2 linked regions of the Homo sapiens genome follow. The protein of the gene in region 1 interacts with the protein of each later gene in a biochemical or structural test. Each region holds a gene or a part of one and is shown on either strand. Other genes may lie near its edges. The genes, in order: PARP10 and PARP14.

The links.
Region 2: the proteins of PARP10 (region 1) and PARP14 form a complex in vitro, tested with the Homo sapiens proteins (one study listed by BioGRID).

The regions. Positions count from the first base shown.
Region 1 is NC_000008.11:143,976,516-143,983,664, reverse strand, and holds the end of PARP10 (protein mono-ADP-ribosyltransferase PARP10), read left to right. Parts: coding exon 1-498; intron 499-599; coding exon 600-733; intron 734-5,583; coding exon 5,584-5,758; intron 5,759-5,834; coding exon 5,835-6,181; 3' UTR 6,182-6,507; downstream 6,508-7,149. UniProt on the Homo sapiens protein: ADP-ribosyltransferase that mediates mono-ADP-ribosylation of glutamate and aspartate residues on target proteins. In contrast to PARP1 and PARP2, it is not able to mediate poly-ADP-ribosylation.
Region 2 is NC_000003.12:122,711,493-122,718,838, forward strand, and holds part of PARP14 (protein mono-ADP-ribosyltransferase PARP14), read left to right. Parts: intron 1-1,772; coding exon of another isoform or gene 1,773-1,783; exon of another isoform or gene 1,784-1,931; coding exon 1,932-2,081; intron 2,082-2,379; coding exon 2,380-2,442; intron 2,443-2,769; coding exon 2,770-2,937; intron 2,938-6,578; coding exon 6,579-6,785; intron 6,786-6,866; coding exon 6,867-7,346. UniProt on the Homo sapiens protein: ADP-ribosyltransferase that mediates mono-ADP-ribosylation of glutamate residues on target proteins. In contrast to PARP1 and PARP2, it is not able to mediate poly-ADP-ribosylation.

The sequences.
Region 1 (7,149 bases):
CCAGCACTGTGGCACCCAGGTGGCTGGAGGAGGAGGCCGCTCTGCAGCTGGCCCTCCACCGGTCACTGGAGCCTCAAGGTCAGGTGGCTGAGCAGGAGGAGGCTGCTGCCCTGCGGCAAGCCCTAACCCTCTCCCTGCTGGAGCAGCCCCCGTTGGAGGCAGAAGAGCCCCCAGATGGGGGGACTGATGGCAAGGCCCAGCTGGTGGTGCACTCGGCCTTTGAGCAGGATGTGGAGGAGCTGGACCGGGCGCTCAGGGCTGCCTTGGAGGTCCACGTCCAGGAGGAGACGGTGGGGCCCTGGCGCCGCACACTGCCTGCAGAGCTGCGTGCTCGCCTGGAGCGGTGCCATGGTGTGAGTGTTGCCCTGCGTGGTGACTGCACCATCCTCCGTGGCTTCGGGGCCCACCCTGCCCGTGCTGCCCGCCACTTGGTGGCACTTCTGGCTGGCCCCTGGGATCAGAGTTTGGCCTTTCCCTTGGCAGCTTCAGGCCCTACCTGTGAGTCTACCTCCTGGACTGAGGGACGGTGGGGTGGGCTGGTTAGCAGGGGCTAGTGCCCCAGGCATGGCTCTGACCCCCCGCTTTTCCCCATGCATCAGTGGCGGGGCAGACGCTGAAGGGGCCCTGGAACAACCTGGAGCGTCTGGCAGAGAACACCGGGGAGTTCCAGGAGGTGGTGCGGGCCTTCTACGACACCCTGGACGCTGCCCGCAGCAGCATCCGCGTCGTTCGTGTGAGTCCATGCCCTGTCTCTCTGGCCTCATGGCGTCCTGGGCTCTTGCACCATTAGCGCCTTGCCAAGTCTGTGGCCTGTCCCTCTCGCCTACATCAAGGTCAGCTGACCAGGAGCTGACAGGCTCCCAGCCCTGTTCTCTGCCCAGAGGGCGTTCCCAAAGTGGGTAGGGAAACAGGAGGGAACAGAGTGGGGGCCTTGGGATCTGATAGGCCTGAGTGAGGGTCCCCACTCTGCCACTCGTGGCTGGGTCAGCAGGGACTATGGGACCAGCTCCAGGCCTCAGTTTCCTTATTTGGAGCATGGGGCGGTGATGCCATCTTGTGGTCATTTTGAGGATTACTCGCTCCACAGATGCGTCCCTTGTGCTGTTCTGGGCGCTCTTCTGCCTCCACAGAAAGGCCCGGGCTCGCTGCGGTCACTGTGCTGATGACACTGCGCGGGGCACTCTCTTTTTTGAGACGGCATCTCGCTGTGTCTCCTGGGCTGGAGTGCAGTGGCACGATCTCGGCTCACGGCAAGCTCCGCCTCCCGGGTTCACGCCATTCTCCTGCCTCAGCCTCCCAAGTAGCTGGGACTACAGGCGCCTGCCACCACGCCCGGCTAATTTTTTAAAAAATATTTTTAGTGGAGACGGGGTTTCACCATGTTAGCCAGGATGGTCTCGATCTACTGACCTCGTGATCCGCCCGCCTCGGCCTCCCAAAGTGCTGGGATTACAGGCGTGAGCCACCGCGCCCGGCCTTGCACGGGGCACTCTCAACTCTTGATGCCCAAAGTTGTGCGTGGGGCCAGCAGCATCACCCTCCACCAGGAGCTGGTCAGAAATGCAAAAAGAACCTCTGGCTGTCCCCAGACCTCACCACCATCATCACCACCATCACACCATCACCATGACCCTCACCACCATCATCACCACCATCATCACCATCACCCCATCACCATCACCACCACCATCACACCATCACCATGACCCTCACCACTCACTGTCATCACCACCACCATCACCATCACCATCATCACCACCACCTTCACCACTCACTGTCGTCACCACCATCATCACCACCACCTTCACCACTCACTGTCGTCACCACCATCATCACCACCACCTTCACCACTCACTGTCGTCACCACCATCATCACCACCACCTTCACCACTCACTGTCGTCACCACCATCATCACCATCACCTTCACCACTCACTGTCGTCACCACCATCATCACCACCACCTTCACCACTCACTGTCGTCACCACCATCATCACCACCACCTTCACCACTCACTGTCGTCACCACCATCATCACCATCACCTTCACCACTCACTGTCGTCACCACCATCATCACCACCACCTTCACCACTCACTGTCGTCACCACCATCATCACCATCACCTTCACCACTCACTGTCGTCACCACCATCACCACCACCTTCACCACTCACTGTCGTCACCACCATCATCACCACCACCTTCACCACTCACTGTCGTCACCACCATCATCACCACCACCTTCACCACTCACTGTCGTCACCACCATCATCACCATCACCTTCACCACTCACTGTCGTCACCACCATCATCACCATCACCTTCACCACTCACTGTCGTCACCACCATCACCACCACCACTACCACCACCACCGTGGCCACCATCATCACCACCATTAGCATCACCACTGTCACCGTCAGCTTCACCAACACACCGTCACCGCTCACCGCCACCAGGATCACCACCACCCAGACGCACTGACCTCATATCCTGGTGGTTTTGTTAATTATACGTACTTGGTTCTTCCGGTGAGCACCTTGATGACTTTAAATGGTATGCTTGAATTTAGTGAGCACCTTGATGACTTTAAATGGTATGCTTGAATTTTTTTTTTTCACTTGACAGCTTTAGAGATTGTTTCTTGCCTTCCCGCATGGAAGATGAGGAGAATGGGCCTCGCTTCTCTCTCTTTTGCCTCCTCCCTCATCTTCCATCTCAATTTGGTCAGTTACATTATTTTTATTATGTCGTAAAGGTTTCTGTAACTATCACAAAGCCTCCATGCGTGGGCCATAGGTTGGTAGACATACTATAATAATGAAAAAACATTTACCACTGAGCCATAGAAAGAGAAGTGAAATCCTAGTTATTAAAATTCTGTTCTGTAAAAAAGATGTTCTAGGATTCAAGGCTAATGGCTTTTCTTTTTTTGACTTTCTTCATTTTTTCCAGGCCATTCTTGACCACCGGGTTACTCAGTACCCCGCTTGTCACCTTTTGGCACAGACTCTTTTGTTTAGTGGGAGTATCTCCTTGAGTGGGTGCTAAACATATTTGACTTTTAAATTTACGTATATGTGAACATATATGTTTAAACATATACATTTATATATTAATATATACATTTATATATATAATTTTTTTGAGACAGTGTCTCTCTCTGTTGCCCAGGCTAGAGTGCAGTGGCATGATCTCGGCTCACTGCAACCTCCACCTCTTGGGTTCAAGTGATTCTGCCTCAGCCTCCCAAGTAGCTGGGATTACAGGCACACACCACCACACCCAGCTACTTTTTGTATTTTTAGTAGAGATGGTTTTTTTTTTTTTTTTTTTTTTTTTTTTTTTTGAGACGGAATCTCACTCAGTAGCCCAGGCTGGAGTGCAGTGGTGCAATCTCAGCTCACTGCAAGCTCTGCCTCCCGGGTTCACGCCATTCTCCTGCCTCAGCCTCCTGAGTAGCTGGGACTACAGGCGCCTGCCACCACGCCCAGCTTATTTTTGTATTTTTATTAGAGACGGGGTTTCACCATGTTAGCCAGGATGGTCTCAATCTCCTGACCTCATGATCTGCCCACCTCGGCCTCCCAAAGTGCTGGGATTACAGGCGTGAGCCACCGCGCCCGGCTGAGACGGGTTTTTTTTTTTTTTTTTTTTGAGACGGAGTCTCGCTCTGTCACTCAGGCTGGAGTGCAGTGGCACGATGTCGGCTCACTGCAAGCTCCGCCTCCTGCGTTCACGCCATTCTCCTGCCTCAGCCTCCTGAGTAGCTGTGACTACAGGCGCCCGCCACCGCGCCCGGCTAAATTTTGTATTTTTAATAGAGACGGGGTTTCACCATGGTCTCGATCTCCCGACCTCGTGATCCGCCCACCTCGGCCTCCCAAAGTGCTGGGATTACAGGCGTGAGCCACCATGCCCAGCGAGACGGGGTTTTGCCATGTTGGTCAGGCTGGTCTCGAACTCCTGACCTCAAGTGATCCACCCACCTTGGCCTCCCAAAGTGCCAGGATTACAGGCGTGAGCCACTGCACCCGGCCGACTTTTAAATTTATATTGCCCTTTACAATTAGAGGTATTTTGCAACTGTAATTTGATGTTGGTATGAACTTCCATGTTCTCGTGTGTCCTAATATGCCCTTATTTGTCCTCATTCTTCATTACTAGTTTGGCTGGATATAGTGTTCAGGTTCAAAATATGTTTTTCCTCAGATATTTGAAGACATTGCTGTTTTTCTTCATTCTTAAAAGAATATTTTTCTTGGAAAGTTAAAAAATATCCCCCCATGGTTTCTTAGCATCTGGTGTCGGTAATGAGAGACCCAATGTGAGAAGGTGAGACTTCTTCCGGTTTGCATATTGACCTTGTTGTGTGTGTGTGTAAACTTGCAGGGTTGGCCAGCTGCGGTGGCTCACGCCTGTAATCCCAGCACTTTGGGAGGCTGAGGCGGGCGGATCACGAGGTCAGGAGATCGAGACCATCCTGGCTAACACAGTGAAACCCCTTCTCTACTAAAAATACAAAAAAGATAGCCGGGCGCGGTGGCAGGTGCCTGTAGTCCCAGCTATTCGGGAGGCTGAGGCAGGAGAATGGCGTGAACCCGGGAGGCGGAGCTTGCAGTGAGCCGAGATCGTGCCACTGCACTCCAGCCTGGGCGACACAGCCAGACTCCCTCTCAAAGAAAAAAAAAAAAAAAAACTTGCAGGGTTTTCTTTCACTCTGAAGGTTGAGGTTTCCTGGCACGTGGGTGCCAGGGGCGTTGTCTTTCCTCATTGTCCTTCTTGGCATTTCACGGATCTTGTGTATCTGAAGATGTTCCTTCAGCTCAGGGAAGCGTCTTCCCTGTGTGTGCTGGAGCTCCGGCCGGTGGAGCTCCTGCTATGCCGGCTCAGACCTCAGGCCCCCTCACCTGCTCCCTCGGAGTTCCTTTCTCTTCCGTTAGCTTCTCACTCTGCATCAGTTCCTGAACTCCATCTAGAACGCTAGCTGGGTCTTCAGTTTGAACCACTTCCTCATTTGGCTCACCCCCTCTAGATTTAGCTCAGCGTCCCTTTCTGAATGCAGGAGCACTCTGGTTTTCAGACTAGTTCCTTTTCATAGCAGCTAGTTTTGTTTAATAGACATGGTGTTCTTTTGCAACTCTCTGAAGAAACTATTTAAAATTTCTTTAAAAGTGTTTCCCAGGGCTGTCAGGTTGGTCACCTGAGGCCTTCTCTCCCACCTGGGTCTTTCAGCACTGAGAGGTCTGTGGCATCTCCTCGTGTTGGAGTCAAGTCCTGTAGGCAGCATAGGGCCCTGGCTCAGCTTTTCTCTGCAGAGGCCTCGCTTGAGTGGGTGGGGTTTGCCCGCCCGCAGACCTCCACGGGAGGGGGAGGGGTCAGGCCTCCCCAGCGGCCCTCTGAAGTCACTTGCTTCACGGAGGTGTTACTGTCTGCTGCTGGACAGAGCATGATGGGGGCTGCAAGGGCTCCCTCAAACCCTGGACTCCTCCAACAGAGGGCTCCTGGTTGCCAGGCTCAGCTCTGCCCTGCGTCGGCCCCAGGGCGTAGGGAGGGTGTTTAATCCTGGCCCGGGCCTTCCCCGCAGGTGGAGCGCGTGTCGCACCCGCTGCTGCAGCAGCAGTATGAGCTGTACCGGGAGCGCCTGCTGCAGCGATGCGAGCGGCGCCCGGTGGAGCAGGTGCTGTACCACGGCACGACGGCACCGGCAGTGCCTGACATCTGCGCCCACGGCTTCAACCGCAGCTTCTGCGGCCGCAACGGTGAGGCCTGAGCCGGGCAGGGGCGGGGGCTCTGCGCACCCCGACCACCCTGACCTTGCCCCGTCTCGCCCTGCAGCCACGGTCTACGGGAAGGGCGTGTATTTCGCCAGGCGCGCCTCCCTGTCGGTGCAGGACCGCTACTCGCCCCCCAACGCCGATGGCCATAAGGCGGTGTTCGTGGCACGGGTGCTGACTGGCGACTACGGGCAGGGCCGCCGCGGTCTGCGGGCGCCCCCTCTGCGGGGTCCTGGCCACGTGCTCCTGCGCTACGACAGCGCCGTGGACTGCATCTGCCAGCCCAGCATCTTCGTCATCTTCCACGACACCCAGGCGCTGCCCACCCACCTCATCACCTGCGAGCACGTGCCCCGCGCTTCCCCCGACGACCCCTCTGGGCTCCCGGGCCGCTCCCCAGACACTTAACCGAAGGGGCCACCCTCTGGCCTCCTGCTTCCCAGGCTCCCAGCTCCGCACAGGCTGATGCTCCCCGCCCCCAACTGTGGCCGCCTGAGCTGTCCCCGGGGACGCCCCTGCCTCCCTCTGCGGGCTCCAGAAGGCGGTGTGGGGGATGGCGGTCAGCAGCGGCCGAGGGGGGCCGGGCTAGGTCCCAGCCTGGGCCGACCCCACCACCAGGGGTCAGCAGAGCCCAGGAGGCGACACCGCCCGCCCGCCGCTCCCAGACCTCGCCCGAGTCGGCTCTGTTGTTTGAATAAACGTGAACGTGAACCCAGGCGGAAGGGACCCGGGAACTCTGACTGCGACCTCTGTTTGGGGAGTGGGGATCTCCGCGGCCCAGGGGCGGGATCTGCTGCTTCCGAGGAGGCGTCGGGGTGCGGGGCGGGGCCCGGAGCTCACCGGGGCGAGCGCACGACGTTCCCGTGTCGCGCACGCCGGCGCAGACAGCGTCTCCTTGACTACCGGCCCGCCCCGTGCGCCGGGGGCTCAGGTGTGCGCCGCTGCCCTGGCCGAATCGCCCGCCCGGGCCCCAGCCCCGCCGCTCCCGAGATCTCGGCGGCCCCGCGCAGACACGGGCGCCCGATCTCGCTGGCAGCGTTCGCTCGCTCTCGGCCGGGCCCGCGCGGCGCAGCTCTGGGTGGGGGCCGGGGCGGGGCTCGGGGCTCGCCCCGCCTGCGCCGCCTCCGCCGCTCTCCCGGCCCGAGCAGTCTGGCTGCGGCGGCAGAGCTGAAGTGAGCGGAGCCACCAGGCATGTATGACCGCGGCCAGGATGGAGAGGCGCGCCGCGTGCGGGCGCTGCGGGGTGGGGGTCGGGGGGCGGTCTCCGGCCGCAGGCCACACGGAACTAGGGGCTGCGCCGCGCCCCCTCCTGCCCTCGCTCGAGAGGACAGCACCTCCCTGCACGCCCGAGACTGCGGAACTGGACGGGCGGTGCC
Region 2 (7,346 bases), on another chromosome or scaffold:
ATTTTGTCAAAGATTTTTGCATCTGTGTTCATCAGGGATATTGGTCTGTAGTTTTTTTTTGTTGTATCCTTTCTTGGATTTATTATTAGTTTAATACTAGCTTTTAGACTGATTTAGGGAGGATTTCTTCTTTCTCTATCTTTTGGAATAGTTTCAGTAGGATTGGTACCAATTCTTTGAATGTCTGGTAGAATTCAGCTGTGAATCCACCTGGTCTGGGACTTTTTTGTTGTTGGCAATTTTTTTTAATTACTAGTTCAGTCTTGCTGCTTGTTATTGGTCTGTTCAAGGTTTCTGTTTCTTTCTGATTTAACCTAGGAGGGTTGTATGTTTCCAGGAATTTATCCATTTCCTCTAGAGTTTCTAGTTTGTGCATGTAAAGGTGTTCATAGCAGCCTTGAATGATCTTTTGTATTTCTGAGGCATTGATTGTAATGTCTCCAGTTTCATTTCTAATTGAGCTTATTTGGATCTTCTCTCTTCTTTTCTTGGTTAATCTCACTAATGGTCTATGAATTTTCTTTATCTTTTCAAAGAACCAGCTTTTTGTTTCATTTTTATCTTTTTTTGTTTGTTTGTTTGAGGTCTTTTTAAAATAGTTTCTATTTCTCTGCAGAGACATCCTATTTTTCCATTCATTCCACATCATTTCCATCCATTCAAATGTGTTTACTTTGACCTCATGGATCATAGTTATAGTAGATGCTTTAAAGTCTTCTATAATTCACATCTTTTTGGGATTCACATCTTTTTTTTTTTTTTTCTTTTTTCTATGGAGTCTTGCTCTGTTGCCCAGTCTGGAGTGCAGTGGTGCAATCTTGGCTCACTGCAACCTCCGCCTCCCGGGTTCAAGTGATTTCCTTGCTCAGCCTCCCAAATAGCTGGGATTACAGGCCTGTGCCACCACGCCCAGCTAAGTTTTGTATTTTTCTTTTAGCAGAGAGAAGGTTTTACCATGTTGGACAGGCTTGTCTTGAACTCCTGACCTCAAGTGATCCACCTGCCTCGGCCTCCCAAAGTGCTGGAATTACAGGCATGAGCCACCATGCCTGGCCAGGATTGACATCTTTTTTTTTTTGAGACAGAGTCTCACTCTGTCACTCAAGCTGGAGTGCAGTGGCACAATCTCAACTCACTGCAGCCTCAACCTCTGGGGGCTCAGGTGATCCTCCTACCTCAGCCTCCCAAGTAGCTGGGACTACAGTTGTGCACCACCATCCCAGCTAATATTTGTATTATTTGTAGAGATGGGGTTTCACCATGTTGTTCAGGCTGATCTCGAACTCCTGGACTCAAGTGATCCACCCACCTCGGCCTCCCAAAGTGCTGGGATTGCAGACATGAGCCATTGTGTCTGGCTGGATTGACAGCTTTTGATTTTCTTTATCCTTAAGGGTTGATCAAATTTTCCTGGTTCTTTATATAACAAGCAATTTTGGAATACAGACTTGACATTTTAAATATTATGTTGTGAGACTAGGGCCACCCTTGGGTCAAAGCTGGGAGAGAAAAGAGGAAAAATTTTAAAACAGAACAAAATGGAAAACTGCCCCACTTAGCAGATTGCTTCTGCAAGTTTTGGCACCTTTCTTCAATCTGTCTGCTGTTATTGTAACTTTTCAGAGCTCTTGGGTGGTGGCTTTTTGTATTTGTCCTGTTTTTAGTTGTAATCAACGGGAGAGATAGGCTATAGTACGCTAACTTCACCTTGGTCAGCACCAGAGTTCATGTTTGATATGGATTCTATGTTCTAATTCTTTTTTCTTAAACAGATCATCACTGAGGCTGAGGAGCAGGGCCAGGTTAAAGACCAGAGGTCACAGAAAGAGAGGGAGAGGGAAGACATCCAAGAGGGTCCCATGTGAGCAGGATACCCAAGTCATTCTTGCTGTGGCTGACTCGGTTATTGACTTTACTTCTTTTCTTTTCAGGTTTTTATGGGACTGTTTCTAGCCCTGATTCAGGTGTGTATGAAATGAAGATTGGCTCCATCATCTTCCAGGTGGCTTCTGGAGATATCACGAAAGAAGAGGCAGATGTGATTGTAAATTCAACATCAAACTCATTCAATCTCAAAGCAGGTACTTGTACAATTTTGATGAGTGCAATAGTTAATGGTAGATGCTATGAAGGAGGGTTTCTATAGCCAAACTGGTTTTTAGAACTTTGGCTTGTTAATTAATAACTTTTAAATTATGCTGACAGGGTTTTCCATAATTAATAATGTTTATTTTATGAAGTTTTCTTCTTTGTCATCAGCAATACCCAATTAGAGGATTCCTCAGATGATGGAGAATGCATTCAGATAATCCTTCTGATCCAAATATACCATAGTGGTTTTTTACTCATGTTTGTTATCATCTTGATTTTCTCATGTAGGGGTCTCCAAAGCAATTTTAGAATGTGCTGGACAAAATGTAGAAAGGGAATGTTCTCAGCAAGGTAAGGCATATTCTATTTTTTGGTCCTAAGTTGTAATTGTATGGGAGGCTGTGGAGAGGCTGAGAAAAGTCTTAGGGTTGGGGAGACAACACTCTAATTTTAAAATGATACATTTTACTAAAGAATTCCAATCACAGACACTTAGAAGTGAAAAGTAATCTCACAGTTAAAAGTAAAGTTAAGTCATAGCATTCCATCAAAGATAGTATTTCAGGAGTTTTTTTTTTTTCACAAAATGCTTACTTGCCAAGTTATACATTTTGCTTTCTAAACAAATGACGGGTTCAACTTCTACTAATTTTGCATCTTTTTGTCTGTGTTTCCCAGCTCAGCAGCGCAAAAATGATTATATAATCACCGGAGGTGGATTTTTGAGGTGCAAGAATATCATTCATGTAATTGGTGGAAATGATGTCAAGAGTTCAGTTTCCTCTGTTTTGCAGGAGTGTGAAAAAAAAAATTACTCATCCATTTGCCTCCCAGCCATTGGGACAGGTTCGTAGCCTCTGGCTGTCAAGGCTAAATCCCAAGCCATCTACTTTCCCTTTCATTTGGAGCTGAGTGTGAATGCGGTCAGTGCTGAGTCTGACCCAGGGCAGCAACCATTAAGCTAGGAGTGGACAGCTTCCTCCCCATAAGACAACTCCCAAGGGAATGACAAAGCCTGTGGATTGTTTGAGTAAAAGAGGGACAAAATGCAGGAGACTGAAGAGAGTGTTAGAATGTTAGAGAGGCAGAAAGAAGGGAAGGGAAAATAAGGAGGAGAAGAGAAGGGAGAGAGTGGAAAGGCCATCCCTCATTCTCTTTCCTCAGTTACTTTCCCTTTTTCCATTCCCTACATATTCTCCATTATGCAGTCCTTAGCTTCCTCCTCTTTCCCCTCTCCATGGAGAATATTAGTACAACAACTTCCACCTCACTCTAGCTGATTCCCAGAGGAATATTACCAGGCTTCAGCTCAACAGTCAGCTGTGTCACTTGGCCTCAGGGCATTTCTGTGTAGAAGCTTCTCAGTCACCAGAACCTAGTGGGTCAGAAACTCAACTCTCCACTTTCCTCTTTTCAGCCTACTTGCTTCTTTGATTTTCTTCTTTTCCTAAAACTAGGTAATGATAGCGTGATTTTTCATATATAAGGATGGCGCTCTGGATTTATCATTAATTAGGTGGTTTTTTTTTTTTAATTATACTGGGGTACATGGGCAGAATGTGCAGTTTTGTTGCACAGGTGTTCTTTGAGCTCTTTAGGAATCCCTGCTTGGTCTCCTTCAGAGAGCTGGTCAGGGGAGGCATGCATTCTTAGGCTTGAAGTCAACGGAGCTGCCTTGTTCCAGTGCGAGAATAGTCAGCATCGGATCTGTCATTCTGTTGCTCGGGAATCTAAGTTTGAATCTCTTATGCTGGCATTCTAGGCTTTCCAAAAGGTTATCCTCAATAAACTTAACCATCCTTGTCAATTTCTGGGCCTTCTTCTAACCCTCTGACCCATATCTGTAATTCTGTACCATTTCTTATAATGTTCCGAGATGGAATTCTATGTCTATTTTACAACTTTTCTATTTCTAAAAGTATAATTTTTGATCCCTTTGTTTTCATTCCCCTTAGAGTATCATCTATTCCTAGCAGATTAGCCAACATTTCTCCTATCTCTCTCTACCAGTCATCTATCTATCTATCTATCTATCTATCTATCTATCTATCTATCTATCTATCTATCTATCGATCTGTCTATCTATCTCTATCATCTCTCTACTGACTTATCTTTTATGGACACCCACCAATGACTCCTCAGTCTCTGTCTCCATCTGTTTTTTTCTCTGAGCTCTAGTCTTGGGTTTCCACCTTCAGTTGATTTGGGCCAAGAAAGCAAGCAGCTTAGGGGTGCCACAGACCTTCCCAAAGGAGTCCCTGGTAGAGTCAAAAGAAGAAACAAAGAAAGAAGGTAGGTTTCGTTTTGTATAAATATGTACACATTTGAGCATTTCTGGACTCAATTCTGGACTCAACAACAAATCCTGTTGTTTCTTCCACTGACCTGGTTGCATTGCTGGTCAGCACAAATAAATCAGGGTTAGTGGGTTATCCTTGCATGTCCTCTTTACCTATCTTTATCACCACCTGAGCTGGTTCTGAGACTGATAGATGTAGAAGCTTTCTCTTTTAGTGGTGTATATGAGTTGAATTAAGACTGTGATCAAGACAGCCTCTGGCAGTTAAAGGAGCCTCCTCTCTGTTCCTTAAAGACACCTGCATAAGAGGAGAGATTAGGTGGTTAGCAATACCTGTGATCACCTCAAGCTCAACGCAGACTCCAAACTCTCATTCCTTGTCATCTCCCCAAACCTGCCCTTCCTCTTATATCCCCAATCACGTGAAAAACATCACTTTCCATCTAGAGTCCTTGACTCTACCCTCTTCGTCACTCCGATCTTCATTAGCTTAGGAATTATTTGATTGAATATTTACTGAGTGCCTGCATCTGCAAGGCACCATGTTTAGGCTCTGGAGATAGAAAGATAACTAAGAAAAGGATCCAGTTCACAAGGAGCACTGAGCCCAGTGTGAGAGACAGGCATGCAAACAAACAACTGCAATGCAACGTGAACCATGATATAGTGAAGGTATGTGTATGGCAAAAGACAGAGAGGGAAAGGTGAAGGACAAACCCAGCTGGTCCCTAGGTACTCCTGACTTTACTTCCAAAATAGCTCCTCAATCCCTATTCTTCATTCTGGCCTCCTCTTTTTGTTCAGCTCTTGTCTTTTGACTAAGCTTTTATTACAGCGTCCTAACTAGACCTGGGCTCCCCGCTCCATGCTTCCTCCATACCCCTCCAGACTTAACTTCCTCAAAACTAGGTCTGTTCTGCATACGTGCCAGGCTGAACATATACCCATTACATAGTTCCATCTGGCATAGCCTTTCCCTCAATTTTCCATATTTCACCTGTTGATCACCTGTTCATCCCCGCATATCACATCATCTGTGTTCTAGCAAGTGCCTAGTGAGTACCTAGCCAGTGATAGGACATAGCAGATGTTTCTTGAAAGTGAATGAATGTAACTGAATGTGTCCATATAAACTCTTCAAAATACCATGGGAAAATTACAGCTTTGCAAAAGAGAATTTCCCTCGTTCTCTGATCATCTGATTTAAAAAGATTTGAACAACCCCCCTTGGTTAATTTTATGTGGGGTTGTCTACATTCCCACAATTGTCAGCATAGCCAAGTCAAAGAAGCCTACTCTTCTTCTGCAATAGTGGTGGGTACCATCAACAACAATTAGCCAGGTGGGCTCTTAGTCTGTCACATCAGCTTGGCCAAGGAACTTTTACATTGCCCATCATGTGACTTTGCCAGCTGTTATTCACATGGGACTGTTCCCCCAGCTGGAAAGGGACTTTTCATGATCTTACCTAGGCTGTTGCTTTCATGGCTTGAGAAGGAGGATATGGAGTATGCTGAAAACAGGAAACGCTCTGCTTCAGGTGGCTACCTTGAATCCTGCTGGTCAGCTAAAATCTCACTGAGTGTGGAGGGAAAGGCTTCTTGGAGGCTTATAGATAACTTGTGTCTGAAAAATTATAGATTATAACAAATAGCCTGTAGCACTGGGTGTCTTACTAAATTTTGCTTAGTTCAAATTAGGTTCCCAGAGATATCTGGGAGAATAAGGATACATACATAAAATCAAGTGATGACTGATCCTAAAAAAGATTTTCATCTTTAAAAAGTATTTTATGTCAACATATATTAGCATCTGCTTTTTATGAAATTTCAAGGACACTAGCGAGCTAAGTAGAAAAGCTACTTGTGCTCTGTAATAGGAGAGGAGGAACACAATGAGCTGGGATCAGTTGAATAGAGTAGATATGATTGTCAGACACCAAAAGTCAGATTTCTGGGTCCTTTGTTCACTGCTAGGCTGTGGGCTTCCTGACATCCTGGAACAAAAACACTTCATTGCATCTAGGACTTCAAAAGTGTTTGCTGATGCTTTGTTAGAAAATTCCACAATGATGAAAGAATTGAGGAGTGGGCATTTATTCTCTGAGCATTGGAAACCCTAATTTATTCCTCAGCCTTCCACTTGGGGCTTTTTTGTCCTTCAGCAATTTTATTATTTGCTTTTCCAGGAAATGCCAAACAACACCCAGATAAGGTTGCTGAAGCCATAATTGATGCCATTGAAGACTTTGTCCAGAAAGGATCAGCCCAGTCTGTGAAAAAAGTTAAAGTTGTTATCTTTCTGCCTCAAGTACTGGATGTGTTTTATGCCAACATGAAGAAAAGAGAAGGGACTCAGCTTTCTTCCCAACAGTCTGTGATGTCTAAACTTGCATGTGAGTTCTTTGTTTTTATGAAATGCATGTTCATAACGTTGATGTCACATGTGAAATACCTAATCTTCCTTTTCTTTTTAGCATTTTTGGGCTTTTCAAAGCAATCTCCCCAAAAAAAGAATCATTTGGTTTTGGAAAAGAAAACAGAATCAGCAACTTTTCGGGTGTGTGGTGAAAATGTCACGTGTGTGGAATATGCTATCTCCTGGCTACAAGACCTGATTGAAAAAGAACAGTGTCCTTACACCAGTGAAGATGAGTGCATCAAAGACTTTGATGAAAAGGAGTATCAGGAGTTGAATGAGCTGCAGAAGAAGTTAAATATTAACATTTCCCTGGACCATAAGAGACCTTTGATTAAGGTTTTGGGAATTAGCAGAGATGTGATGCAGGCTAGAGATGAAATTGAGGCGATGATCAAGAGAGTTCGATTGGCCAAAGAACAGGAATCCCGGGCAGATTGTATCAGTGAGTTTATAGAATGGCAGTATAATGACAATAACACTTCTCATTGTTTTAACAAAATGACCAATCTGAAATTAGAGGATGCAAGGAGAGAAA